Linked DNA regions of Homo sapiens: regions 1, 2 and 3 are each reported to be linked to region 4. The links are microRNA targets in miRTarBase. Many come from high-throughput screens and were not tested one by one. Region 4 holds a microRNA gene; each other region holds the end of a gene's coding sequence.
The links. Region 4 holds the annotated microRNA hsa-miR-1236-5p (UGAGUGACAGGGGAAAUGGGGA, at 2,052-2,073, opposite strand). A microRNA usually pairs through its seed, bases 2 to 8, with sites in the 3' UTR of a target mRNA and lowers its output. Matches are read on the target gene's strand: a 7mer-m8 pairs with bases 2 to 8, a 7mer-A1 pairs with bases 2 to 7 and ends in A, and an 8mer does both.

Region 1: miRTarBase lists IST1 as a target of hsa-miR-1236-5p. Seed matches in the 3' UTR shown: 8mer at 1,131-1,138.
Region 2: the mRNA of LYPLA2 is a reported target of hsa-miR-1236-5p. Seed matches in the 3' UTR shown: 7mer-A1 at 5,990-5,996 and 7mer-A1 at 5,978-5,984.
Region 3: the mRNA of ARHGDIA is a reported target of hsa-miR-1236-5p. Seed matches in the 3' UTR shown: 7mer-A1 at 5,824-5,830.

What each region holds. Positions count from the first base shown.
Region 1 is chr16:71,926,784-71,933,783 of GRCh38, forward strand. It overlaps IST1 (IST1 factor associated with ESCRT-III), which reads left to right. Exons shown (of 10, transcript NM_001270975.2): 10 at 831-4,416. The coding sequence ends at 1,030. PKD1L3 (polycystin 1 like 3, transient receptor potential channel interacting) reads right to left here. Exons shown (of 30, transcript NM_181536.2): 28 at 6,637-6,738; 29 at 3,269-3,400; 30 at 2,755-2,895. The coding sequence ends at 2,755. Among named protein-coding and RNA genes, the nearest start is that of IST1, 35 kb to the left of the region's middle.
Region 2 is chr1:23,793,884-23,801,033 of GRCh38, reverse strand. LYPLA2 (lysophospholipase 2) reads right to left here. Exons shown (of 10, transcript NM_007260.3): 6 at 7,104-7,150; 7 at 6,898-6,971; 8 at 6,709-6,810; 9 at 6,434-6,607; 10 at 5,495-6,352. The coding sequence ends at 6,302. It overlaps GALE (UDP-galactose-4-epimerase), which reads left to right and starts at 280. Exons shown (of 12, transcript NM_001008216.2): 1 at 280-322; 2 at 1,598-1,668; 3 at 2,022-2,147; 4 at 2,304-2,419; 5 at 2,804-2,917; 6 at 3,163-3,339; 7 at 3,887-4,000; 8 at 4,092-4,158; 9 at 4,252-4,337; 10 at 4,448-4,525; 11 at 4,769-4,883; 12 at 5,027-5,435. The coding sequence starts at 2,027. The coding sequence ends at 5,085. RefSeq lists silencers at 1-79, 240-719, 770-869.
Region 3 is chr17:81,862,196-81,869,345 of GRCh38, forward strand. ARHGDIA (Rho GDP dissociation inhibitor alpha) reads right to left here. Exons shown (of 6, transcript NM_004309.6): 4 at 7,135-7,150; 5 at 6,978-7,041; 6 at 5,526-6,880. The coding sequence ends at 6,681. LOC124904086 (a long non-coding RNA gene) reads left to right here. Exons shown (of 2, transcript XR_007065950.1): 2 at 968-5,561. Among named protein-coding and RNA genes, the nearest start is that of P4HB, 5.2 kb to the left of the region's middle. RefSeq lists silencers at 2,038-2,332, 5,350-5,409, 5,760-5,849, 6,560-6,609 and enhancers at 3,250-3,299, 3,909-4,537, 5,168-5,796, 5,797-6,426, 6,427-7,055 and 1 more.
Region 4 is chr6:31,954,867-31,962,013 of GRCh38, forward strand. MIR1236 (microRNA 1236) reads right to left here and starts at 2,074; the gene lies at 1,973-2,074. NELFE (negative elongation factor complex member E) reads right to left here and starts at 4,105. Exons shown (of 11, transcript NM_002904.6): 1 at 4,026-4,105; 2 at 3,506-3,588; 3 at 2,075-2,144; 4 at 1,827-1,972; 5 at 353-427; 6 at 193-230; 7 at 1-26. The coding sequence starts at 3,580. SKIC2 (SKI2 subunit of superkiller complex) reads left to right here and starts at 4,309. Exons shown (of 28, transcript NM_006929.5): 1 at 4,309-4,348; 2 at 4,431-4,534; 3 at 5,144-5,253; 4 at 5,354-5,471; 5 at 5,566-5,680; 6 at 5,800-5,874; 7 at 6,175-6,228; 8 at 6,330-6,520; 9 at 6,681-6,809; 10 at 7,043-7,147. The coding sequence starts at 4,327. RefSeq lists an enhancer at 6,899-7,147.

The DNA of each region.
Region 1 (7,000 bases), not on the chromosome of region 4:
TTGTAATTTAGTTTTCCTGAATCTAGAACTTAAGGAAACATACAGTAGATGTGTGTGGGGGCATGATCTTAATATAAAATACTAGATGGAAGACTGGAAATACAGATCAGACTATTATAACAAAATAACTTGGACATTATATTCCTTTAAAAAAACTTTGCCCCCAATCCCTAAAGAATGTTGGTTCTTAAGGAAGCAGTGTTTGTTCTATCAGAATCCTATTATCACTCCTTGGACTTAGTTGGTAAAGTAACAGACCTTATGAAAAGGAACAGTCGATTGCTCTGTGGATGTGGCCCCATGTATCCCACTTTGATTTCCCTTAAACTTTTTTCTCACCACAGGAAAGTAAAACAGGATTCAACCCTAATTAGAAAATGTAGATATTAACTGTCATTCAAATGTTTATTAGCCTCTAGAATTAACTTTTTTTTAGCCAGATGCGGTGGCTCACACCTGTAATCCAGCACTTTGGGAGGCTGAGGTGTGTGGATCACTTGAGATCAGAGTTCAAGGCCAACCTGGTGAAACCCTCTCTCTACTAAAAATACAAAAATTAGCCAGGTGTGGTGGCATGCGCCTGTAATCCCAGCTACTCAGGAGGCTGAGGCAGGAGAATTGCCTGAACCCAGGAGGCAGAGGTGCAGTGAGCTGAGATCACGCCAACTGCACTCCAGCCTGGGTGACAGAGGGAGACTGTCTCAAAAAAAAAAAAAAAAGTTTGTGAACTAAGGTTTTCTCCTGTGTTTTGATCATTTTATTTTTACTGCCAAAGGGGATCTGAGTCATTTCTCTGGTATTTGTAACGTTGTGCTCCTTGCCCTAATTAGGTCCTGGACCCAAGCCAGAAGCCTCTGCAAAGCTTCCTTCCAGACCTGCAGATAACTATGACAACTTTGTCCTACCAGAGTTGCCATCTGTGCCAGACACACTACCAACTGCATCTGCTGGTGCCAGCACCTCAGCATCTGAAGACATTGACTTTGATGATCTTTCCCGGAGGTTTGAAGAGCTGAAAAAGAAAACATAGGTCTCTTAAACCAGGCAACTTTCACGTTTTGGGAGTTGAGACTGAGCAATTTCTCCTTGTAACAAAGAATCTCCATGAAATTCTGTTTCATCTGTTAACCGTCACTCAGCACAACACTCCCTCTGGGCTCTCTTCCTGCTCCTCCAGATTCTGCTGCTTTCCAGTTCTCTGTTGATCCTGAGACTAACAATTGGAGACTGAGGCCAGAGCAACTGGCTCCTGGCAGCTGTGCTTGTCCGTTTCCTGTCAGAGTGATCCCAGGTTTCCTCCTGGCCCGTCCCATGGTCCCTCCACAGGAGTGTGAGAGGATGGGGGAAGCACTGTGGGAAGACCACCAAAGATGGCTGGACAGTGGGAGAGAGCACGTTGTGAAGCATCCCAGCCTCGTGTTGAGGTTCCAGACTTAGAAACAGACCCCTCTGTACAGGGGGATTGTGGTGAGTGAGAATCAAGGCCACCTTGTGTGTTTTCTCACTCTCGAATGCAAGTGGGAGAGGGAAAATGACTCGGGACGCCATTGTAACGGTTCCTGGAAGCTGGGCCCTCTCATTGGCATATACAGTACTCCTCGCTGCAGGGCACTGTCCCACCGGGATCCAGTTGCAAAGTTTGTCTTGACAGTTGAAGGCCTCGCTTAGTTGTACTGGATTCTCAGGGAGCCCTCTGTGGCCTTTTGCTTTGCGTGCTGTTTCCCTTGTACCAGAGGGCGGCACCGTGGAAATTCTGTTTTCCCTGTAGCATATTGTGTTGGATTGCATTACTGGCAGAGAAAGGACAAGGTGCCATTCAAGTCCTAGGGTGGGCTTCCAGCTGCCTTAATAGAAGTACTCAAGTCTTTTGGGTAGTGAGCTGGAAAGCCTACAGGAAAAGAGGGGTACCTGTTTTCATTTGAAAACTTTGATTCATGGAACCTTTAAAACTAATCTCAGAAAAATTTTTGGTGCCCATGCAGCTGTAGTTGTTCACTGCTTTCCTGGATGGATGGGACTCTTATGTCATAACTTCTGTTACTCCTTTGGCCCATAGCTAAGGTCATCCTTCCCCACAGGGGTGGCTTTGGGATTGGATGATACAGCTTTTGCTTCTGTGTAGTATACCTGTACATACTTGTTTCAGGCAGCCTTTCTTTAATGTTTTCAGTTGGTTTGTATTCTGTAGCTCAGTAGCTGCTAATAAAGTTAAAGATCCTGTGTCCTGCTTTCTCTACTGTTTGGTCAGATGATGAAGTATAAATCTGGATTTTAGTGGAGAATATTTTAACCAAGTGATCCATGTAAACCAGCCCTTAGTTTCAGGATTCCTGGAGCAGTACAGAGCTCATTTTGATCTCTGTATTTAGATAGCCCAGATAGCATCTGTGAATTTCCTTGGTCTTCCTCAGTGGCAGGGCTCCGCATCTGCCATGCCTCATCCTTGGATGTTTATTTTTAGTAAGTTGCAGTGAGCTCACTTCTGACTGCTTCATTTCCCGCAGCCATCCTGGGCCATGGGTGGTGAGTTCTGTTACTTGCTGCTTGGCAGCAGAGCTAGTTTGTCTCGTAGTATTCTTGCATTGTTAATCCTATCTTGACAGTGCCAAGATCCATAAGAACTTGGGACCAAGGGGATTTTGATTCCTAACTTACAGAATTAAAAACAAAGTATATTATAATTTTAAAGCTATGCCATGCAAAGATAAGTAGTAATACGCTAATAAATACTAAGCCAAGTAGGAGATAACAGGATTAAGGTAGTTCATCTAAAACTTCAGTGTCACTGCCCACTGCTGTCGTGGCTGCTTGCTCAGATGAGGTTTTTTGGGGCCAACTGATTCCTAACAAATTTGAGAGCTTCTGTAGCAGTGTATCTATTAGTGCAGCTTCTTTCTGAGTATTGAAGACAAAAAGAGAAAAGTGAGAAAATTGAAATTACTGCTAATAGTGGAGTAAAAAAAGTACCAAAGATTTTTAAAAAATTAGTAAATGTAAAGATACTATTTCTTTAATAATTTGCAGTCAGGCATTGGAGTGTTTCCACTAATGGTTGCGAGCCAACTATTTATAGGACAATGGCTATAGAATATTATGTAGTCTTATAAATTGGGTTTCCTAGGAAGATAGCTGGCAGAGCTTTTGAAACTAATAAAGGGAATATGATACTGTGCATTATAAATTATGTCAGCCCGTCATCTTAGGGGCAGTTACAGTGGAGCTTTCCCAGTGATATAACAGCATGCTAGTTTATCTTTTAGTTACCTACCTTAAGCGACTTTCTTTCTTTTCCAAAGGCCATGAGAATGGCCGAAACGAAAAGATTAATTACCACAAGTACCATCAAGATGACACTGGTGAGGATCAGAAAGGTGCCCAGGACTGGGTCTAAAGCGAAAACCTGGGAAAACAATAAGAACACTTGCAGTGACTGACAATTTAGTTTATACTTTACAAACATAAGCTATATGCTAGTGTTTGGGATCTTATCAGAAGAAAAGCTTATCCGAAGGAAACTTAGGGAGAGAGTCAAAAGATAATAAGAAGGAAAATACTTTTAAATGGACAGAAGAGCAGGAATGACTCATTTTAAGGAGGTTAAGATAATTGTGACTGCAGGGCTTTCACAAGAAAACAGGTGAGTTGCAGTGGAATTGGAAATGATTCAAATGTCACATGAGTTTTGGCAAAAAATACATCTAATCATGGAAGCTAAAAGTGGGAGGGGGGTAAGCAAACACTGAAAGATTAAATGCATACCAGAAATGAGAATGCACACTGTCTCTGCCATATCAAGAAACTACAACCCTAAACACAGGAGCATTCCAATAAAAGTTAACAGGTTGGCCACAGAAAACTGGCTTTTTAGTATTTTTTTTTTTCCATTGTCATTTTTAAAGGTACAAGCATTGAGTTCTGCCATTCTTTACTTTTCTGCATACATAAATATCAAGTTCTGGGCTTATTGGAATGGTTCCCATAACAAAAACTGTTGTTTAAAATTTAGATGTTCTTTTTCAACAAATGGTATTTATTTTCCCTTGGTATTGGCCCATTCATTGTTGCCACTAGGGCACTGTTTAAAAATATCCCAACAGAGGGGTTGATTACAGTCAATGCCACCCTGATGGAAATCTATATGGCAAAATATTTTCAAGCACCAAACTGTTTTACCTACTTAAAAATGATTATTATAACAATTTCAGGTCAACCAGATAATGTGGGCAATCTCTGAGTTTGTGATACAAGACTTATTTCCAATAAGTTTATTTTTATGTACAATTTTACTGTTTATTTTTTGTTTGCTCTATTTGTTTTTTAATGTTTTTTACTTTATGTTTACTGTATTTTTATGTACAATTACATCCAAAGCAGAAAAGTTCCTTTTTTATCCCCAAAAGGAGGTGTCAGCAAAAATTTGTTACTCTGATTACTTCCTTCACAGCTTTAGGATACGAAGTGCTGCAGTGGCAAAGGCTCATCCCCTAGTTATTGGAGCTAGAACCACAACAGAACACAGCCTAGTCAGCCAAAACAGCAGTTACAGTTGTCCCTTAGTATCTGAGAGAGATTGGCGCCAGGGCCCCCACAGGTACCAAAATCTGAGGATGCTTAAGTCCCTTATTTTTATTTTTTAATTGCAAGCTTCCCTAAAGGTTAAGAAAGTGTCTTCTCCCCCACTTTTTTTTTTTTTTTTTTTTTTTGAAATGGTCTTGCTCTCACCCCGGCTGGAGTGCAGTGGCGTGATCTTGGCTCACTGCAACCTCCACCTCCCAGGTTCAAGCGATTCTCCTCAGTCAGTCTCCTGAGTGGCTGGGATTACAGGTTCCCACCACCATGCCTGGCTAATTTTTGTATTTTAGTAGAGACGGGATTTTACCATGTTGGCCAGGCTGGTCTTGAACTCCTGACCTCAAGTGATCAGCCCCACCTTGGCCTTCTAGAGTGCTGGGATTACAGGCGTGAGCTACTGTGCCCGGCTCAAAGTCCCTTTTTAAAAATGGCACAGTATTTGCATAAACCCTATATACATCTCTCTTATACTTGAAATAAACTTTAGATTACCTCTAGTACTTTATAGTGGAACTGCTACGTAAAATAGTTGTTACACCGGTTTGTGGTTTTTTGTGGGAGACAGTCTCGCTCAGAGGGCAGTGGGATGATCATAGCTCATTGCATCCTCACTCCTGAGCTCAAGCAATCTTTTCACTTTGGCCTCCTAAGTAACAGGAACTACAGGTACATGCTACCATGCCTGACTCTTCTACTGTATTTTAAAATGTGTGTTATATTTTATTGTTACCTTTCAAATATTTTCATTCTGGGATTGGTTGAATCTGTGGATGCAGACCCTGCAGATACAACATTAGAAACTGAACCTACCCATTTTAATTAGTAATTTTGGAATTCTAGATCATTAGAATGATCAACCATGATCAAAATCTTGCCAGTTTCACTGCTTAAATGGCAGGTTTTTCCTTGCTTGGTCATATCTACCCTTTACATACCAGGGTTTGGAGCCCAGTGCCTCATTTGGGTTTCCTACTTTATATGTTGAGGAGGAAGGCAGGGATTTCTGTTGGTAGTTCCTGGGAGGAAATAATAGGCTCTCTGAAGTGAGTAGTTATTAACTCAACAGAAATAACGCAGTTTCTCTTAGAACTGTACCTTCCTAATTCTTTGTCACTTCCATTATGTCACTTTTTTTTTTGAGACAGTTTCACTGTCTTGCCCAGGCTGGAGTGCAGTGGCACAATCTCAGCTCACTGCAACCTCCGCCTGCCAGGTTAAGGCAATTCTCCTGCATCAACCTCCTGAGGAGCTGGGATTACAGGTGTGCACCACCACGCCTGGCTAGGCTAATTTTTGTGTTTTTATTAGAGATGGGGTTTCACCATGTTGGCCAGGCTGGTCTTGAACTCCTGACCTCAAAAGTGATCCGCTGGCTTCGGCTTCCCAAAGTATTAGGATTATAGGCATGAGCCACCGCACCTGGCCTTTTTTTTTTTTTTTTTTTTTTTTTAATTTAAATAGACATAGGGTCTGGAGTGTAGTGGCATGATCATGGCTTATTGCAGCTTCCAACTCCTGGGCTCACAGGATTCTCTCTCCTCAGCCTCCAGCCTCCTGAGTGGCTAGGACTACAGGTGCATGCCACCACACCTGGCTAATTTTTATTTTTTATTTTTAGTAGAGACAAAGTCTCTATGTTGCCCAGGCTGGTCTCAAATTCTTGGCCTCAAGCAGTCCTCCCCTTCTTGGCCTCTCATGGCTTGAACCAACTTACCCTACCCTGTTAATGCACTTTCAAGGGGCCATTGAGAAGCAGAGAATCTTGTTAATCTGGCCAAGCACAAGAGCACAAGCTTCGGCTCAGTGTCCTTTGCCAATAAGATTAAGGACACAAGAAGTGAGGAAGGAGGGACTGAGTGCTTAGGAAAGGGCAGGTTTCTGAAAGCAACAGCCATGTAAATGCTGTATGCATAGGCAGTACCATAAAGCAGTAGAGCAAAGGACTGAAATTTTCCCCCTTTTCCAGTGTGCAGTGTACAGTAGGGGGCTGTTTTCATAAGGACCCCCCCAATTTTCCTTGTTCAATATATTGAATTCTGTGAGGAAACAAATTATTATTTTTACCTCCTCTTGGTGAGAAATTCCCATCAGGAGACCAACAACAGTCACTGCTGAGCTGAAAAATGTCCGGTAGTCAGAGATGCTGCATCCAAACAGCAGGTTAAACTGAACAGAAGGAGAAAGGCCAGTTAGTGCAAGCCGAGCGCACATCTTTCTATCCTGAGGTGCTTGGGGATGTGGCCAACATAGAAGCAATGGAACAGAAATTCCTTGTGGCCAAATTATGCCCAAAGAATACATAAACTTCCTTTGTAATAACATAGTGTTTTCATAGAAGTTTATTTGACCTTTATATTACCGTGTGAGCTAAGTTTTATCCCCATTTTAGAGAAAAATATGTGGGTTTAAGTCATACCAGTTAAGTGTG
Region 2 (7,150 bases), not on the chromosome of region 4:
TGGGACGAGCTAGCGCGGGGACCCGGGGCACCGGCAAGGACCCACCCGCTACTGGGACCTGGCGCCGGCGGCGCCTCTCGCGGGGTGGCACCGCCCACTTCCGCCTTCCGCGGGCGCGCGCTGCGCAGTCTTCGTCACAGCGCGGAGGCCTTTTGTCCTCCCGCCCTCCCCGTAGTGGCCGTAACCCGAGTGACATGTTTCCTTGGGGGCGTGGAGGGGCGGGGTCGGGGCCGGAGTGGGCCGTCAGCACTTAAAGGGCCCGCGGCTCGGGCGTAGGAGGCGGTGCCTCTGCAGCAAGCGTGGGGCGCGGGAACCCGAGCAGGTTCGGGAGACGGAATGAAGGGCCGGGTGGGCTCGCGAGGGGCCGGGGAGTCCGCGGGGAGCGAGGGAGTTTCCGAGGGGCGGGTCGTGTTCCTGGCAGCGTCCCTCCAGGGCAGGCCCGCCCCCTTTGTCCCAGTTCCCCGCTGCCCGGGCTGGGGCGGCCGGGGTTCATTCATTGCCGGCCTGAGGACTCCTAGCTCGGCCCCGCTCCGCGCTACAGCCCAAAGCCCAGCCTGAGACCCAGCCGCCCTCGTATGCCCACGGCCTAGCTCCCCTTCCCTCCAACAGACAGACTGGGAAAACCGAGTGGGCGACGGCTGAGCAAGGTCACTCCGCTGTCGGGGGCGCAGCCGGCCTCAGACCAGCTTTCGTGCTTCCCAGGGCCTCTCTGCGACCACTTTCGGGGTCCGCGCCAGGCGCGGGGCGGGGGCGGGGGCGGCTTCGGCGCGGCGGGCAGAGTCCAGCGGGCAGCGGTGGGGGAAGGGCGAGCCGCCTGGGGAGAGGGCCGGGCTGCGAGCCTGGCGATCCAGATTCCAGCCCGCTGTCGCCAGCTGTGGGACCGAAGGGCAACTGTTTCACCTCTCTGGCCCTAGTATCTGTATCTGTAAAGTGCCAGTGATAACACCTGTCTCACCGAGATGCTGGGGGAATTCAGGAAAATCATGCAAAAGTGCCTGGTACGGAGCCTGGCACGCAGAGGGCTCTTGGTCAAGTGGGTTGGAGCTGCGTGAGCCCAGAAGGGGATAGAGGCAGCGTGGAGGAAGGCGGCAGCGGGCCCGGTCGCTGGGAATGAAAGGCCTCAGTGTCTGGGGCTTCCTCCCCGTACTACCCGCAGAGTTTGTTCAGGGTGGAGGTGCGCACCTGGCCAAGTCCACGTCTACACGGCCCACCCAGAGTAGCCTAAGTTGGGCGGGATTCCTAACTCTGAGCCAGGAGTGACCGGGCTGGCCCTGGCATGGGCAGAGGCTGAGCGGGGGTTGGGGTGGGGCCCCCTCCAGGACCAACCACGGTGTGGTTGCCCCTGAGCTGGCCTCAGCCTGCCTGGCAAAGGACCTCACCCTTGAGGCCATGTGATCTATTTCCTGCTTCCTCCCAGCTGACCCTTGAGGGAAAGGGGGTGGGGGCCGCCTAGAGCAGGAGGTATTAGTCACTGCGCCCAGGAGCCAGTTTACACCTAGCGAAGGCGGAGGCATTGGACAAGCCTGGGTCTGAGCAGACAGAACCCCTTCCTGCGACCCTGGAGTCCCAATCGTGCTGCCATTTTCCTTCTGCCCAGGACTCTCCAGTCCTCAGTCACCTTGGACAAAGAAGTGTGGATCCTCAGATTCCATCTTTTCCAACTCCAAGGCAAGTGGAACTAGAAAATAAGGTGCCTGTGTGTCAGGTCTCCCCAGCTCTGCTGTGGCGGGCCCTTAAGATCACCTCACTGAACCCTCACGCTGCCTCATGAAGTTTATACAATTATTAGCTCTGTTTTACAGAGATAGAAACTGAGGCCAAGAGGCTAATTAATTTCCAAAGCCTAAGGCCAGAAAGTGATGGTACCCAGACTTGCCCCAGGGCTGACTTCTGAGCCAGTCTGGTACCTAGGGCACACTGCCGCCTCCTTCCAAAGCGAGCTTAGGGGGCAGGATTCCAGTGGGAAGGAAGCTCTGAGCAGGCAGCCTCAGCCACCTCTGAGACTCTGTATCCTGGGCCAGGTGCCATGGCAGAGAAGGTGCTGGTAACAGGTGGGGCTGGCTACATTGGCAGCCACACGGTGCTGGAGCTGCTGGAGGCTGGCTACTTGCCTGTGGTCATCGATAACTTCCATAATGCCTTCCGTGGTGAGCGGGGCAGTGGGGCTGGGGCTACTTGAGGGGATGGCAGAAGCAAAACCCTGGGTTCCACCTCCACCACCGGGCGGGGAATGTGTGTCTGGCTAGTCCCTGGGAACACAGCACCCCATGTCGTGATGATGTGGCCTACATGTACCCTACCAGGAGGGGGCTCCCTGCCTGAGAGCCTGCGGCGGGTCCAGGAGCTGACAGGCCGCTCTGTGGAGTTTGAGGAGATGGACATTTTGGACCAGGGAGCCCTACAGCGTCTCTTCAAAAAGGTGGGTGCAGGCTGGGCACGGTGGCTCACGCCTGTAATTCCAGCACTTTGGAAGGCCGAGGTGAGGAGATCACTTGAGCCCAGGTGTTCAAGACCAGCCTGCTCAACACAGTGAAACCCCATCTCTACAGAAAAATACAAAAATTAGCTGGGCATGGTAGCCCATACCTGTGGTCCCAGCTACTCGGGAGGCTGGCATGGGAGGATGGCTTGAGCCTGGGAGGTGGAGGTTGCGGTGAGCTGAGATGGCACCACTGTACTCCAGCCTGGACAACAGAGCGAGACTGTCAAAAAAAAAAAAAAAGGTGAGTGCAGGCAGGCAGGCTGAGGGCATTGCCAAGGACTAAAACCAGTAGAGCAACCTCTGGCCATGTCACCCCTGCAGTACAGCTTTATGGCGGTCATCCACTTTGCGGGGCTCAAGGCCGTGGGCGAGTCGGTGCAGAAGCCTCTGGATTATTACAGAGTTAACCTGACCGGGACCATCCAGCTTCTGGAGGTGAGAGGCATGGGACAGGGCACAGACACTAGGAGGGTGTCCAGCTGGACCCCAGCCTGGCAGGCAGTGCCAAACACAGAGCCCAAGCTGTATCATCCTGGACTCATGTCTTTACCTCCCAGTCTCAGTTTCCCCATCTGTAAATGAGAGTGCTCATCACCTCAGCCCCATTCTCCTGTGGAGGAGTAACAGGGTGGGAGTAATGTGTGAGGCAGAGGTCACTGATGCCATCTCTCCACGGCCAGATCATGAAGGCCCACGGGGTGAAGAACCTGGTGTTCAGCAGCTCAGCCACTGTGTACGGGAACCCCCAGTACCTGCCCCTTGATGAGGCCCACCCCACGGGTGGTTGTACCAACCCTTACGGCAAGTCCAAGTTCTTCATCGAGGAAATGATCCGGGACCTGTGCCAGGCAGACAAGGTGAGGGCCCCCTTGACAGTGCCCTGGCTCCACTGATCGATGGACTCCTCAGGGCCCACCCTGAGCCCAGGGGTGGGATTCCGAACACCCCCACTAAGGAGGAAGCTAAGGCTCAGGCAGTTGCAGTGGAGGGCCCCATCCCCTGCTTGTTTCTAAAGATAATAAATAGACAACTGGCCGGGCGCAGTGGCTCATACCTGTAATCTCAGCACTTTGGGAGGCCCAGGTGGGCAGATCACCTGAGGTCAGGAGTTCAAGACCAGCCTGGACAACATGGTAAAACCCCCATCTCTACTAAAAATACAAACATTAGCCGGCCATGGTGGTGTGTGCCTGTGGTCCCAGCTATTCGGGAGGCTGAGGCACAAGAATTGCTTGAACCTGGAAGGCAGAGGTTGAAGTGAGCCAAATCAGGCCACTACACTCCAGCCTGGGCCATAGTGAGACTCCATCTCAAAAAAACAGAATAGGCATGAGGAGGGCTCTGGGTTCAGCTGGGACACGCTGCCTGTGCCTCTGGCCTCACCACCTGACCCACATCCCACAGACTTGGAACGCAGTGCTGCTGCGCTATTTCAACCCCACAGGTGCCCATGCCTCTGGCTGCATTGGTGAGGATCCCCAGGGCATACCCAACAACCTCATGCCTTATGTCTCCCAGGTAAGGCAAAAGGGAAGGGACAGAGGAGTGGCCCTGGGGTTAAAGCTGGTGCCTGGGATCTGGGACGAACTGACCTGATCTCCACCTCCAGGTGGCGATCGGGCGACGGGAGGCCCTGAATGTCTTTGGCAATGACTATGACACAGAGGATGGCACAGGTGAGCCTAGGACCAGGGGGACCTAGGAGTGGGAGCCAGGAAGGAGAGTCAGGGGGAACAGACTCCCCATCCAACACACTCCCTTCTCTGCAGGTGTCCGGGATTACATCCATGTCGTGGATCTGGCCAAGGGCCACATTGCAGCCTTAAGGAAGCTGAAAGAACAGTGTGGCTGCCGGGTAGGAAGAGAAGGGAGAAGTGAGGGAGGGGAGGGACCAGATCCAGGCAGAGCGGCCCAGAGGCGTGGTCAGTCCAGCCCGCTCCATAAACCCTGTTCTCCGTGGGCCAGATCTACAACCTGGGCACGGGCACAGGCTATTCAGTGCTGCAGATGGTCCAGGCTATGGAGAAGGCCTCTGGGAAGAAGGTAGGCCCCCCCGCCCCACCCACCTCACCCACCTCACCCCACCCAGCTCTCAGCAACAGAGCAGCTTTGGCCCTTCCCACTCACCTCTCTGGAGGGTACCTGGCACTGCCCAGTCTCCTCAGCCTGCCTAGCACCCGGTGCCTGCGGGCCAGCCGCTGCTCTGCACTTCTGCTTCTTAAAGACCTGGCCAGCAGCTGGGCCAGGGCCGGCTCAGCTAAGCTCCAACTACCTCCTGTCTTGCAGATCCCGTACAAGGTGGTGGCACGGCGGGAAGGTGATGTGGCAGCCTGTTACGCCAACCCCAGCCTGGCCCAAGAGGAGCTGGGGTGGACAGCAGCCTTAGGGCTGGACAGGATGTGTGAGTGCTGGCCTGACCCCTGCAGTTAGGGGCCAGGGAGGGGCTAAATCAGATCTGGGCATGCCCACCCAGGGCGGGCTGTGGGGTGGGGGAGGCTCTGCATTCCACCGTGGGCCCTGAGCACACACCTCGCCGTGTTGCAGGTGAGGATCTCTGGCGCTGGCAGAAGCAGAATCCTTCAGGCTTTGGCACGCAAGCCTGAGGACCCTCCCCTACCAAGGACCAGGAAAAGCAGCAGCTGCCTGCTCTCCAGCCTCTGGCAGGAACTCAGGGCCCTGGAGCTGCTGGGGCCAAGCCAAGGCCTCCCCTACCTCAAACCCCAGCTGGGCCCGCTTAGCCCACCAGGCATGAGGCCAAGGGCTCCACTGACCAGGAGGCCGAGGTCTCTAACTCTTATCTTCCACAGGGTCCAAGAGTTCATCAGGACCCCCAAGAGTGAGTGAGGGGGCAAGGCTCTGGCACAAAACCTCCTCCTCCCAGGCACTCATTTATATTGCTCTGAAAGAGCTTTCCAAAGTATTTAAAAATAAAAACAAGTTTTCTTACACTGGGGCAGGTTCTCACAGATGGTCACTATCCACCCCTGGAATAGAATCAGCCAGGCCTGAGCGTTGAGGAAGCAATTTCTTTAATTTTATCGGAATCCAGGACACAACAAGAAAAACACCCAAAAACCACATGGAGACAGAAGACGAGACACAACTCCTCCCCCACTGCCTCCCTGCTCTAGAGTGGGGACAAAGTGGGGGTGAGACAGCTGGGGGGAGACCTGAACCTCAGTCCAGCCCTACAGGCTCCAGGCCTGCAGGGAAGGAGGGTAACGGGGAGGCAGGGCCCAGCCCCCCAGTGTGGGGAAACAGCTGAGGGAAGGCCCCCCTCAAAAGGCTCCACCTCCTCACCAGCACTCCTGCCCAGGGACAGGGAGCCCACAGCAGCAAGGGGACCCCGGGGCCATGGCCACATTCATGACTGAGAAGCAGCTGAGTGGAGGCAGGAGACACGATTATCTGGGCAGAATCAGTTGGGGCAGGGGCCTGGGGGGGCCCCATGGGCCAAACCCTGAGGTCACAGGAGGGGGCCCAAAGCGGGGCTAGTGAGTGAGGTCCTGAGTGAGTGGGTCAGCGGCTGGGCCCCTTTCTCCAGCTGCCTGTAGCCCCTCCAATACTGCTGCCAGGGGGGCCCGCCTCCAGGGAAATGGATAAGAAAGCAGCCTGCCCCTGCTGCAGACAGAGCCAGGTGGCTAAGGCCAGGAAGGAAGGCCCGGCCAGGCCTTGCCACCTGCCCCCAGAGGCCTGTGGGAAAAGGACAGGTCAGGAAGGGTGGGGACAGGGGCTCGACCGGCTCAGATCCAAGATGGTGCCACGCTTGCTTGCTGAGTCCCCCATGAGCTGGGGTACTGCACTGGGGCCAGCGACTAGTTAGACAGGAGGCAGCAGCTTCTCAAGAAATTCCTTCACAGCTGCCATCTCCTGAGGGGATTAAGAGGGGATCACGAGAGGCACCTGGCTGGAGGCAGAGAAGTGGGAGTGGGAAATGGTCCCCCCACTGACCTGAGGACAGGAGCTGTGCATGACACCCGGGTATGTCTTGAACTGGACCCTGGCAGGTGTGACAACAGACCGGAGCTTCTCAGCCGTCAGGGCCCCAAACCGTACGGGCACCATGGGGTCCAGCTCCCCATGGCACTGGAGTATGGCCAGGTCCTTGGCACTGCCATTAGCTGCCTGGAGGCCGGACAGGACTCAGGGCAAAGCTAGTGCTGCAGCAGTCCCCAAGCCACGAGGATGCAGACACAAAGGGCGGGGGGGTCAGTGGGGACATTCACCTGGGGGAAGGCCCGGTGCAGAGGCAGCCAGCAGCTCAACGCCACGATGCCAGCCAGAGGGTGGGGGCAGGTGAGGGCCGTGTAGAGGGACAGGGCCCCGCCCTGGAGGGAGGAGAGAGAGGGGTCATGAGGGCACAGCTCACTCACCGGCCACCCCTACCCCCTACCCCCCCACCCCTCTCCCCTCACCTGTGAAAAGCCTCCCAGGACGATTCGATTGGCAGGGATCCCGTTCTTCATTTCATGCTCAATCAAGGCCTTGACTGGGGGAGGGGGCATGAGTGGGTAGAGGGAAGCTGCCAAGGGGCCCAATAAGGGAGCTAGGCTGAGGAACCGCCCAGCGCTTTCCTGGGGGGCAGGGGAAGGAGGATGTGGAGGAGGGGCTGGGGTCTTACTGTTCTCTGCTGCCTTCTTGATGCCAGCCTCGTCCTCTGGGGCATCT
Region 3 (7,150 bases), not on the chromosome of region 4:
TCCTGTAATCCCACCACTTTTGGAGACCGAGGCAGGAGGATCCCTTCAGCCCAGGAGTTCGAGACCAGCCTGGGCAACATAGTGAGACTCCCGTCTCTACAAAAAATAAATTAAAAAAATTAGCCAGGCACGGTGGTGTGCACCTGTGGTCCCAGCTACTTGGGAGGTGGAGGTGGGAGAATCATTTGAGCCCAGGAGGCTGAGGCTGCGGTGAGCCATGATCCCACCACTGCACTCCAGCCTGGGCGACAGATCGACACCCTATCTCAAAAAATAGTAAAAAAATGTCCTTTTTTTAAAATTTTTATTTTTTATTTTTTTGAGACAGAATCTCACTTTGTCATCCAAGCTGGAGTGCAGTGGGCGATCTCGGCTCACTCCACCTCCCGGATTCAAGCGATTCTCCTGCCTCAGCCTCCCGAGTAGCTGGGATTACAGGCATGCACCACCATGCCCAGCTAATTTTTGTATTTTTAGTAGAGACAGGGTTTTACCATGTTGGCCAGGCTGGTCTCGAACTCCTGACGTCAGGTGATCCACCCGCCTTGGCCTCCCAAAGCGTTGGGATTATAGGCGTGAGCCACCGCACCAGGCCTCCTCTTCTATCTTTTAACGTGGCTTTTAGAAACTTTTAAAATTACATAGATGGTCTGCATTTTGTTAGTGTTGGACACTGGCAGCCCTCCGTCTCCCTCACTGCCTGGAATCTGCTGCTCTCCTTTTCCCCAGGTGCCTGCCCTCTCCATTCCTCCTCACTTTCCTCCGCTGGGAATCGGCACCGCCACTGATTTTAAAGTTGAAACTTGGCAGGCAAAAGGGAGGTACTCCCATGTTAAATGTATACACATTGACTGCAATAGTATCCTGACTTTTGAAATGGTAAAACGTAGAGTAAGTTGCTTTTGTACTTTGAGAGTTTCTGTTTGTTGATCAGTTGTTCCTGAGAACATGCTTCTCCTTCCGACAGGGAACTCCCTCCACTAGAATATGAGCTCCTTGTGGTCAAGACTGGGTCCCCTGTTCCCTTCCCCCCAGTGCCAGCGGAGCAAAGGTCAGTCAGCGGCATAAGTTGTACCTGCTGGGAGAACTGTCTGCTTCCTCCGGGTGACTTTTCTGGCCAAGAAGGAATATGAGTATGTGCCTCCCTGAGCACTGGCCTGGAGCCCACTCAGGAAACACCATCTCTTCATAAATGGTTTTGATTGCAGGCATTGTTCCTTCTGCTCTCTGGATGATGGAAATTGCTTCAGGTCACTGCACTATCTTCCAACGTTTTTGTGGTTGCCATGAGCTGTTGTACAGACCACAGTTTGGGGCCTGAGACAAGCTGGGCATGGTGTTGCATGCCTATAATCTCAGCTACTTTGGAGGGTGAGGCAGGAGAATAGCTTGGGCCCAGGAGGTCTAGGCTGCAGTGAGCCATGATCATACCACTGCACTTCTGTCTGCGTGACAGAGACCCTGTATCTTACATAAAACCCCAGCCCATATTTGTACCACATCTAGATACGAGGTCAGAGTTCAGATGCCTAAATATTGTAGCTTGTGTTTTGTCCACTGTTGGGGGAAGAGTGAAGAGATTTGACATACCATAATGTTGATTAGCTTGTGATGGTTTGGCGGCAGCTTAGGCCAGAGCATAAAGTAAAAAGGAAAAGTGTTCACAGACAATGAAAACTGGGACCAAGTGGTGAATACTCAAGGCACACAGACCAGGCAAGGATCCCAGTGGCCGTGGATGAGTCTCAGGCTGGCTCTGGGCCAGTGGAACACACCTCAGTGTGGGTGAAGGCCTAGCCAGGGTAGCAGAGGGCAGGGCTACAGAACAGCAGCCCAGGTGGCTGTGGCCGACCTGACATTCTCCTGTGAAAATCAGGTGCCCAACCAGCACTAATCTAGATAGATGGCAGCATTTTTTTTCTTTAAAGACAGGATCTTGCTATGTTGCTCAGGCTGGTCTTGAACTCCTGACCTCAAAGGATCCTCCCCTCTTCAGCTTCCCAAAGCACTGGGGTTACAGATGTGAGCCAGCACGCCCAGCCGAATCACAGTATCTTAGACAGATGCCATGGCTGCCCATAGGGTCCTCTCAAGGTGCCTCTGCCCTTGGACTGGCTTCCTACACCAACCTGACAGGTGCAGCAAAGGTGGACTTTCTGGTAAGGCTGGAGGAGGAAGCCTGGTCTGCGATGGCCTGAGACGCCCTCTATGGGGGTTGTTGAGTGGATGGAAATGTGCAGGGCATGGGTCCTGCCCCCAAGAATGCAGGCTGGTTCCGCTGGGCACCTGCAGAGGGCTGATGTCCTTTTCCTGAGGCCTGCTCCTGTGCCTTCTAACCCTAGGGTGAGAAGATGGGCTGTGTTCACCTCATGCCCAGGCCCTTCGAGGAGTGTGCCCTTGGGGGTCAGAGCCCTCCTGTGGCTGGTATTTCTTTGGATCATCACAGGTGCTCCAGACATCCTTTAGGGAGTCTCAGGCTTGGTGAAGGGATCCATTAAATGTTGCTTAGTTGGTTTTTGTTTGTTTTTTGTTTTTTCGAGACAGAGTCTCCCTCTGTTGCCCAGGCTGGAGTGTGGTGGCGTGATCTTGGCTCACTGCAACCTCCACCTCCCAGGTTCAAGCGATTCTCCTGCAACCTCTGCCTCCCAGGTTCAAGCGATTCTCCTGCCTTGGCCTCCTGAGTAGCTGGGATTATAAGCGTGTACCACCAACCCTGGATGATTTTTGTATTTTTAGTAGAGGCAGGGTTTCACCATGTTTGTCAGGCTGGTCTCGAACTCCTGACCTCGTGATCCTCCTGCCTCGGCCTCCCAAAGTGCTGGGATTACAGGCGTGAGCCATCATGCCCAGCCAACTGGTTTGTGATTAAATGTTTTGATTGATGCAGTTTTTGAAATGTACTGTGTGTACAATATTACTCTTTTGAGACAGGGTCTCACTCTGTCACCTAGGCTGGAGCACAGTGGTGCAGTCATGGCCCACTGCAGCCTCTGCCTTGTAGCCTCAAGTGATCCTCCTGCTTCAGCCTCCTGAGTAGCTGGGACTACAGTTGTGCACCACCATGCCCACCTAATTTTTATTTTTTTAAAGATGGGGTCTCCTGTGTTGCCCAGGCTGGTTTTGAACTGCTGAGCTCAAGTGATCTGCTTCTGGCCAGCTACTACTCTTAAAAGTAGAGTTCTCAGAGCAAAACAGCTCCCTTTCAACCTTCAGTCCGGTCGAAGGTGTGGTGGGGGTAACAACAGCAGGCTCATGGATACCTGGGCAGTGCTCCGAGGTCCCTCCTGTGTTCCCACTGAGCAGCAGCCTGCTGTGCCCGGAGTGGAGGTGAGAAATCCAGCAGCAGCGCGGTGGTGAGTGTGGGCCCTGCGGAGTGTGGCAGGCGCTCATTATGGTGCAGGGCAGTGTTGGGCACAGAGAAGGTTCTCAGAAACCACAGTAACCCATGGTTAGTTGGTCACATCCCAGACCCTGACCTAGCACTGGCTGGCACTGTGACTTGTCACTCTCCTGAATGGAAGAAGTGTCCACCTGGGGGTGGCTGAGGAGGTGGATGCTAGGGGACTGCTGGGAGCCACGGACCTGTGGAGGTTGGGAGAGGAGACTGCAGGCGCAGGCTGCTGGAGGCGAGGAGGCCTCTCTGGAGCGCCAGGCCATACAAACAGGTCCCAGGTGGGGCCACGAGGATCAGGTTAGACTTGGGACCCGAGAGACACGTCATGCCCACTGTGCAGGTGCCACCTCATGTTATCCTGCACCAGGGGAGGGGCCAGCCCAAAGTCCTGGCTGCTGGCAGCATGCCCGTACAGCTTGGCACCTGGGTCTGAGTTCACATGTCTAGCAAAGCTGGGAAAATCCAGGAGCAAGAAGGTGAAGCCCTTTGGCTCAGCCCAAGCTCAGAAGGCCCTTGCCCGATGAGCCGAACTGCTGACAACACCCTGGCACTGGGCTTGGGGACTCCCCTGGAGCATGTAAGAAGTGAACTGGGAGCGTGGGAGAAACTGTCTGGCAGGGGCTGCTGCCTCGGAGCTCATCCTCCCTGGCTGTGCTGGTGTCTGTCCAGTGGGATTAGCCTCCATCCTGTGGTTTCACCACCCCACCGCCTCTCTCCCCCACAGCACAGGCAGAAGCAGCAACGCAACACGAGACCACCTCGCTTGGGGCTAGTAGCAGTTCTGGGAAAGGCTCGGTAGGGTCTTTGCTCCCTGCGGAATCAAGGGCTGGGGGCTGACCCAGGCTTTCTCTATAGCTGCTTCCAGATCTGGGTCTGGACCAGCTTCTGCAGGAAGGCACCATTCTGTTGGGGTGTCTGACACGGTCAGCTCTAGGCTCAGCCTCTGCGGCCCCCACAAAGGCCTAGCAAGGATGGGGCAAGGTGGCAGTGGTGCCCGCACGCACTGCCCTGGCACAGGTGTGTAGTTAGTGACCTGAAGCATGAGGGCATCTCCCTGCCCACCCCAGCTGGAGATAAGCCCCTTGCGGGGCCCACCCTGCTGATAAACCCCAGAGCAGTATGGCCTGTGTCAGAATGACCAGTAGGAGGGCCCCGGGGTAGCAGCTGCCCAGCCCAGCTGCGTGTGTGTGTGAAGTATTTTCCTCAACACCTTATACCACAGAAGGCAGATTTTGAAACTCGCATCAGGCCAGAAAAAGAATTTCTGAATGGACACTTCTAAGGGGTGCCTGGTTACTCATCTGCCTCTTCCCCCTGCAGGGTAGAGGGGCATGGGTTTGAAGTTCCCGGGGGCTCTTGGAGACTGCAGACACGGACGAGCTGGGGTTCCTGGATGCTGCAGCAGTTGGGGCCCCTGGCTGAGCGCACCTGCCCCAGGAGGCCCTGCGTGGTTCCCCCAGTAGCCCCTTCACACCACACCGCAGTGAGGATGCCCTGTCTCCTGCCGATCCCATCACACCAAGCCTTTTCGCTGTTGGGCTCCTGGCACTGCCCGATCCTGGAGGGCACTTGGCTGCGGCTGTGGCTGTGAAGGGCTGGTGCTCTAGGCGCCTCCGTGGCCCCCGTTGCCTGGGCACCTACTTCCTGCCTCAGCCACAGCTGCATCCACGTGCGCCAGGGGCCACAAGGCCGACCCTGGCTTGGGCCTGTTCCTCCCTGGGTTTCCTTGGGATCCAGTCATTGGAGGGCCCGCGCACAGCTGGGCCAACTCGACACCTCCAAGCCCGGCCAGGGAATCAAGCAGCTCTCCCTCTGGCAGCATGAGCTACACAAGCCAGGCCCGTCTTCCCATTCCCTTAGCAAGGAGGGGCAACCCCAGCCAAGGCCTTCTGCACTGTTCTAGACTGTTGCTGCCTAGGGCTACTGTAGCTGGGAGTCACATTCCTTTCTCCCCAGATAGTTGCAAGGGGCCCAGCAGCCACAGCACTTCAAGGGGGCCCTGCCCTTCCCCTCCCACCACCCCACCAGGGTCCCCATCTTCCCCTTTGTCTCCTAAAGCCCGTGAGGCAGTAGAGGAGCCAGGCCCTCCCCTGCCACACCCTGGAGAAGCCAAGCAGCAGACACCCCCAGCTCCTTCAGGGGCATTTATTTCCCGGTCAGAAAAGAAGCAGGGACAGGCGCCTCTGCCTGAGCCTGGCAGACACAACACGAAGACCGGGGATGGGGCGGGGGAGGCACAGGAGACGGCTCTCAGCAATGTGTGCACTTGGTCCCTTGTTTGTTCCTGGCTGGGTCAGGGAAGGCCTGCCGGGGGTGGTGGCACTGAGAGCCTGGGGGAACAGGCGCCAGGCCAGTGGCCCAGGGACGGCACGGACGGAGGCAATAAATACTGATGGCCAGGCGGGGCTCCTGGCTGGGCCCAGGTGGGGTGAGTGAGGCTGTCCATCGAGGGCTCTTGGGGGGGTGTGGGCTCTGGGCACTGCCCGCTGAGACAGAAAAGGCAGAGGCAGGACAATACCCAGCCTCCTGGATGGTACTGAGGTGACTTGAGTTTTGGCAATTTGGCTTTCCCCAAGCCGCCGGAGCCATCTCCACAGCCCTGTCCAGGGAAGGGGGCAGGCTGGCCAGGCACTGGTGGGCTGGGGAGCAGCAGCAGCACACCCCACGTGTCCCTGGGTCACTGGGTTCGCCACCGGGGAAGGGACGGGGAGGCCACATGCTCATGCAGACACAGGGAGTTAGAGGCTAGTGAGGCCCCACGGTACACTCCACATGTTAAGGCATCATGGTTAGACGGGACCGACAGCGACAAGGGGGCTGGCCAGGGAGCAGCGGGGCTGGAGGACGGCCCGGCCCCCACGAGGCCGTGCATCCCACACCCCAGCTCCACCCCGGAGCAGCAGACGCACACGTCCAGGGGCAACCACGGGGCCTGGAGAATGGCTGCTCCGCTCCCTCCTGAAGCCAGGCCTCGGGTGTGACGGGGAGATAGAACCTGGGGGGCACAGAAAGGGCAGCAGAGGCCTGGCTGCGGCCTCTCTCCCCCACAGCACAGGCAGAAGCAGCAACGAGACAGGAGACCGAGGAGGCTGGGCCTGTGGGTGGGGGAGGGCTGAGGAGGGGGGTCGGAGGCACTCGGTTGAGCCAGGCCAGGGAGGCGGACCAGGGTGGGAGGGGCACGGAGGGCCTGTCAGCACTTTGGTATGGGGAGGGGAGGGGCTGGGGGGGACACATCCGCCTGTCCGTCGTCCGTCCGTCAGTCTGCCCTGCCCGCCTCTGGCTGGGCTCAGTCCTTCCAGTCCTTCTTGATGGTGAGATTCCACTCCCAGGACAGGTGGTCGGTCTTGTCGTCGTCTGTGAAGCGGGACTTGATGCTGTAGCTGCCCCGGGCCAGCATACCCTTGGGTGCCTCCTCCACGGGGGTCAGGAACTCGTACTCCTCGGCCCGGGGCCCATAGCTGCCTACCATGTAGTCAGTCTTGTCAACTGCGGCACAAGGAAGAGGGCGGTCAGCGGCCCCGCTTCCCCGCCTGGCAGCACGCACCCAAGCGGCCCCCTCTGCCCTGCCCGGGGCCCCACTCACTCTTGACGCCTTTCCTGTACGTATGCTGGATGTACTTCATGCCGGACACTATCTCTCGGTTAACCTGCAGGACCCGAAGCGAGGATCAGGGAAGGTCGGTCCGGACCCCAGCCCCAGCCCCGCCTCCATTCCCTGGCCACAGCAGCCTGTAGCTTACCCGGAAAGAGATTTTT
Region 4 (7,147 bases):
GAAGTCGATCACTAGAAGACACAAAGCTGGGGAGATGCAGACTGAAGATCAAAGGGGGGTTTTACCTTCTCCCCTCAGACCCTGTGGAGACTCAATATTCCCTCTATAGCCCAGCTCCTACAGCCCAAACCTCCCAAGGACTCAGGCAATCAACTCCACCAAATGGGCCCAGCCTTATCTCTACTCTCTAACCTCTCATACAGAGATTTCCTCTGGGGACGTCTGGATGACTGTAAAAGAGACCAAGAACAGTTAAGATGATTTCCAGTTGCTGACATGTGGTCCAAAATATATTTGTCTCTCATATTCCTCCATCCCCAACCCCTCAGGGACAGAAATTAGGAGCCTTTACCTCTTGCAGGTCATCATCAGCAGATATGCTCCTCTGGAACGGCTGGAAAGTGGGGACTGGTCCCTTCTCGGGGTCCTGGAGTGGTGAGAGACCTACCTCAGTGTGGAGCAGGAGGTTGCCCAACCATGGACCAGAGGTGTTCCTCTTCCCTCACCCTCTTCTAGGTTTCCTCTGATCTTTTCTTCCCTTTTAATTCTACATACATTTCTTATTTGACGTGGTTTTACTTATTTTTTTTTTTTTTTTTTGAGACACGGTCCTGCTCTGTTGTCCAGGCTGGAGTGCAATAGAGCAATCGTAGCTTGCTGCAGCCTTGACCTCCCATGCTCAAGCAATCCTCCTACCTCAGCCTCCCTAGTAGCTGGGACTAGAGATGTGCTCTACCATGCTTGGCTAATTTCTGTATTTTTTTTTTTTTTTGTAGAGATAGGGTTTCACTATGTTGCCAGGGCTGGTCTCAAACTCCTGGGCTCAAGCAATCCTCCTACCTCGGCCTCCTAAAGTGCTGAAATTAACCAGGAATGAGCCATTGCCGCACCTGCCATTGTGGCTTGTTTTGTTTTGTTTTTGAGACAGAATCTTGCTCTGTCGTCCAGGCTGGAGTGCAGTGGTGTGATCTCCACTCACTGCAACCTCTGCCTCCTGGGTTCAAGTGATTCTCTGGCCTCAGCCTCCTCAGTAACTGGGACTATAAGTGTGCACCACCACATTCTGCTAATTTTTTTTTTTTTTGAGACGGAGTCTCGCTGTCACCCAGGCTGGAGTGCAGTGGCACAATCTCGACTCACTGCAAGCTCCGCCTCCTGGGTTCAAGCAATTCTCCTGCCTCAGCCTCCCAAGTAGCTGGGACTACAGGCGCCCGCCACCACGCCCGGCTAATTTTTGTATTTTTAGTAGAGATGGGGTTTCACCTTGTTAGCCAGGATGGTCTCGATCTCCTGACCTCGTGATCCGCCTGCCTCGGCCTCCCAAAGTGCTGGGATTACAGGTGTGAGCCACCGCGCCCGGCCTCACACCCTGCTGATTTTTGTATTTTTAGTAGAGACGGGGTTTTACCATGTTGGCCAGGTTGGTCTTAAACTCCTAATCTCAAGTGATCTGCCCACCTCAGCCTCCCAAAGTGCTGGGATTACAGGCATGAGCCACCACGCCCAGCTGGTATTTTTTATAAGTGACTCGATATATTATGTATTCAGTTTATTTGAACCTCTCTTGAACCTGATAACATTTTCAGCCCTTTCCATCCCTTAGGGCAACATATTCCAAGAGCTCCAATCCAAGGTGGATTAGAACCACAGAATTTGTAAAATGGAGAATTCAGGAGTCGTCTAGTTTTTTCATTTTATACATGAGAGGTGAAACTCAGAATGGTACAGCAATTTGCCAGTGCTTGAGTATGCATATTTTTCCCCAAACCCATCTACATTCCAACTTGGAGGGATGCCCTTTAAACAATCTTTCTGCTTGTGCTCACCTTTAACTTCCCCTCAAGGGTTCGAGAACGCTTGAAGCCTGAGTTCTTGGTCTCAGCCTTGATGGCACTGATGGCTCCTGACTTCACCAGCTGCTTTGCCTGCTCTGTTGCTGTGGCTGTGTCCATGACAGGCTGCTCTGATAGTGCTGGAGAGACAAGGGGAAGAGGCATTATGTTGGCCAAGCCATGATGAAGGTCAGCTCCATGCTGCCCACTTCCAGTCCATCCCCATTTCCCCTGTCACTCACAGCGTTTGACACCACCTTGGCTGGTTGTGCTGCTGCTACTTTGCTTCTTCAGAGCCAGCAATGCCTTTTTCTGGGAACAAGGGTGAGAAGAGAGAGGTAAGTGAGGGCCAGCCCCTAGCCGGTTCCTCTCCTAAGGCCCCTGGGCACATCACTCCAGGGACCGTCTTTCTTGATGCCCTCAGAGTGGTACACTGATGTGCTCTGCCTCTTGCCTCTGGTCCCCTAGATCATGTATGATGCTGGAAATTCCTAATCTAACCAAACCACGGAACCCAGAGGTTTTCCAGAGTGTTACATTTTTGAAGTTGAAGACAAATAACTCAATCATGGACTAGAATCCTAGGATATAAGCTGCAAGTAAGTATAAGTTTATGTGCCTTTCCTGGAAGCTTCATCCATCTATTTCCTGCATATTGAATGAGGCCCAGCCATGACTTCGTAACAGGGATATCCAGGAGGCTAATGCATTGTTCCTACCCTCAAGAAGCTTACAGTCTGAGAAATAAAATACATTGAGTTAGCAATACAATTATAAGAGGTGCAGATTATTCATAGCTGAAAGCTAGTAAGATTTTCTGATGTTTAATGGCTATTAAACTAGGCCCTCTCCCGTATCTCTGCACAACACAGAGAGGAGAAGGGTATTTTAGAAAAAGAAAACAGGGTGGCAAAGATGCAGAGATAAGAAGGCTTTGGGAATGCATCTTTTGGAAGTAGTGAATAGTTCTACTTTACTAGACAAGGCTGCCAAACTAAGGTTTTGAGGCTTTTTTATAGACAATGTGAAGCCATTTATGGTTTTTGAGAAACAGAGGGAGCAGAATTTTGTGTTTTCAATGGATCATTTGAACAGGAGTGAAGAAGTCTGTTCAAAAAAAAAGACTGAGAAATTTGTTGAGAGACCATTACAATGGCCCACATGAATGTCAATAAAGCCCTGCTCGGGGGAATGCACAGTGAAGAATAAACAGGAAAAATTACTTCAAAAGAAGAAACAATAAGACTTGGCAAAGGTTTGACTATGCAAATAGTGGGGAAGTCAGAGTTTTGAGTCCAAACATGTGGCAGAATTGGTGTAGTCAATCTTATTTGGAAGATCAAGAATAGAAAGATGATAGCTTCAACACTGAGTATCTGAAGTTTTTCAGTATAACACTGGATAGAACTGGAAAAAACAAACTTGGGGATCATCAGCTCTTAAGCGGTACTAAAAGCCATGGGAAAGGAAGACAATCCATGGCAAATTGCATAGAAAAGACAGAAGGTCCACACCAAGGCTTGGGAAAGCCCACCTCTCGAAGCTACACTGTGAGGTGATATGTCTCTAGGTATGGGCCAGAAAAACTTCCCCATTCGCTCACACTCACCCCATATCTTCTCAGAGTGCAGAGTCTGTGAAAGGTTAGGCCATGTCCACACACAGTCCCTCACCTTTTTCTTGAGCTTGTTGAATTTCTTCTGCAGAGCCTCCTCTTCCTCGCTCAGTCCGGGGGGTATCACCAACATGGTGGCTCCTAGTTCAGGGGCAGGGCCCAAGACATCTTTCTCCACTGTTACCACCCGGGGTTCACACGCCGTCCACACTGTACCCAACCCCACCCCTTCAGGTCTGCCTACTCTTGTCTTTGGCTTTCCCTACCCCTTGCTTAAACCAGGCTGCTGTCCAAGCTCCCGCTGGTCGGGATCATCCAGCATTCCCTCCTGTCTCCAGGGATCACAGACACCAGCACCTTTAGGTACCATGTGGTTCAAGGAGGGACAAATATCCACTCCGTCGGAAAGACGATGGCACCCGACCCCCCTACCCTCGCTAGGGTAAGGACAACCGCGGGGTTTGAACGGCAGAGAAGGCGGTGGAGCCAGCGTAGCGCCCGCAGAGCAACGCAAAGAGGAAGAACAGAGAAACGGCTATGAGAAAAAGGGCCGAAGAGTGAGAAGCAGAGGGCCTTACCCGAGGGGGCGGCAACCGGGGGCCCCACGGTCTCCGGCCGCGCCCGCGCTGGCCGCTGATAGCGGGCTCACAACGATGACGTAGCGAGGAGCGGAAAACGCGGTAACCAAGGCGGCCCCAGGCGCGCACTTCCGCCCGGCCTTCCACCGGTCCAGGTCTGCCCCTCCGCAGCGATAGTTCACGCTCTCGGCGGGGCTGTACCGGAAGTTGCCTCTACTTCCGCCCGTTCCGGGGCGGGGCTTACTTCGCAGCGACTACTTGCCGCACTTCCGGGCTGCCAGGCAGCTGCTGTGGCTCCAGGATGATGGAGACAGAGCGACTTGGTGAGGGGGAGGGGAGGGAAATGGAACGGAGTAGCCGATATGGAATGAACTTTGACCCCTGACTTTTGACCTTTCCCCGTAGTGCTACCCCCTCCAGATCCCCTGGACCTACCCCTTCGGGCCGTGGAGCTCGGATGCACGGGGCACTGGGAGCTGCTGAACTTGCCTGGAGCTCCAGAGAGTAGCGTGAGTGACTTTTGACCCTAACCTTTGACCCGCATTGAGTCCAAACCTCCTTCACCCTCCTCACAGTAGGATCTAGCTTAACCTTGTTCATCTGTGCCTGTACTCCTGTCCATCCCAGCCTGAAGGGGTGCTGGACAGATTACAGCCCAGTGTACCTGCAGTACATGTGAGGACAGAGCAGAAAGGGCTGGGGATATTTTTGCTTTGAGAGCTGCTCTTTCAAATGTGGCATTTCTCCGTGGAGCTCCCTTCTGTATCCAAGCACCAGGGCACTTGGTGACTGAGATGATAGGCTTTGAGCCTCCAACCTTTCATCCTTAGGTCTGGGACCCCTTTTTCTAAAATCAGTGAGTCTCCAATTTCAGTGTGCTTCATGATTAGCCAGGGAGCTTTTTAAAAATGCACATTCCTAGGTCCAGCCTCCATGTTTCTGAAATCCAAAATCTGCCCCAGGTAATTCAGTAGCAGGTAGTTTTTGGCCAAGCCTGATTGTCCTAGTCTGTTTGACACATCTGCCATTTCTGATCTGAACACAAGTCCCATCATCTCTTTTGTCTGCATTTTATCCTCTTTCCTTACCTAATGCCTCTCATCTTGCCCTTGTTTCAGCTTCCCCATGGCCTCCCTCCTTGTGCCCCAGATCTGCAGCAAGAAGCAGAACAGTTGTTTCTGTCATCCCCAGCCTGGCTGCCTCTGCATGGTGTGGAGCACTCAGCCCGGTGAGGAGTCTGGAGGGGCTTAGACTAGGGTGATGGGTTCCTGAAGGAAGCTGGGACAGAGGAAGAAAGAAGACCCAAAAGTTACTATTTTTCTCTCCAGAAAATGGCAGAGGAAGACGGATCCCTGGTCTCTTTTGGCTGTCCTGGGAGCCCCAGTCCCATCCGACCTACAGGCCCAAAGACACCCAACCACAGGCCAGATACTGGGTTACAAAGAGGTAGGAGGTCAGGGGTCATGAGAAACAGTTGGGGAGAAGGGGAGGTGGTCAGAGACAAGCTCAGCCTCATTGGGGCTCTGATCTCTTGCCTTAGGTCTTGCTGGAGAACACAAATCTCTCGGCTACAACCTCCTTGTCTCTTCGCCGGCCTCCAGGGCCAGCCTCCCAGTCCTTATGGGGAAATCCAACTCAGTATCCCTTCTGGCCAGGTGACTCTTGTGGAGATGGGATGGTAGAAGAGGGTGTCTTTAATCTCCAGGGAAGGGTTCCCCACCTATCTCGTATTACCCTCATCCCATGAATCCCTGTCTGTCCTGTCTCTTCCCAGGGGGGATGGATGAACCCACCATAACAGATCTGAACACACGGGAGGAGGCTGAGGAGGAGATAGACTTTGAGAAAGGTAAGGTGGGGCTCTGAGTCTGAGCCTTGAGGAGGAAGAGCCCAGGCTATCACTGGGCTACTGCTAGCCCTCCCATGTTTTTGAGAAAATTAGAAAAAGATATTCTGTCCATAACAACCTTTACTGTCATCTGCTGGGAAATTTCTACAACAACCTTTACTGTCATCTGTTGGGAAAGTGTCATAGCAAACATCCCTATCTACAGCATCTGTCCTGTAAATGGTATCTTTTAGGTTTATATAATGTACACAATTTGTTCACCAGTGTGCAGTGACCTGATTTCATGTCCCTATCCTACAGATCTTCTTACTATTCCACCTGGTTTCAAGAAAGGCATGGACTTTGCACCAAAAGGTTAGTTTTAGTTTTTGAGTGGGGTGTAGGAGAAGTCATGTCCTTCTCCTAAGGAACAGAGATGGACATGACAAGGTTGACCTTGTTGGCTTGCTCCTCAGATTGTCCAACTCCAGCTCCTGGACTACTAAGCCTTAGCTGTATGTTGGAGCCTCTGGATTTGGGTGGGGGTGACGAGGATGAGAATGAGGCAGTGGGACAGCCAGGAGGTCCCAGAGGGGACACTGTTTCAGCCTCTCCCTGCAGTGCTCCCCTGGCCCGAGCAAGCAGCTTGGAAGACCTAGTGTTGAAGGTTGGTGGTTCTGTGTAGTGGAGGCAAGAAAGAGCCTTGCCACCAGGATGTGGGCTGGCTAGGATGGGTCTGAGGGGAAGAAAGGGACATCTTTTGGGAGGAGTGCTAATTGAGAGCCCTCTGGTTGTATCTTTATCACTGCTACCCCTGACTCTTCCAGGAAGCGTCCACAGCTGTATCCACCCCAGAGGCCCCAGAGCCTCCATCTCAGGAGCAGTGGGCCATCCCTGTGGACGCCACCTCCCCTGTTGGTGATTTCTATCGCCTCATTCCCCAGCCAGCCTTCCAGGTACTTTGGCCCCATCTTCACACGCTCCTCTACCTCTTTCTGGGTCACACTCCCAGCCGACCCCTTGTCTCCTCTATTGGCCAGAGGTCAGATCCATCCCAGGCCAGTCTTGGTACTCAGTCCCAGCCTCGGCTGGCTCCGGCCTTCATCCGCCCGCCCTGCGTGCTCCATGAGCAGGAGGCAGCAAGGCCCCGCTCCTTTCTTCAGCTCCTGTCTATTTCTCTCTCCCATAGTGGGCATTTGAGCCAGATGTGTTTCAGAAACAGGCCATCCTGCACTTGGAACGGCATGACTCTGTCTTTGTCGCAGCTCACACATCTGCAGGAAAAACAGTTGTG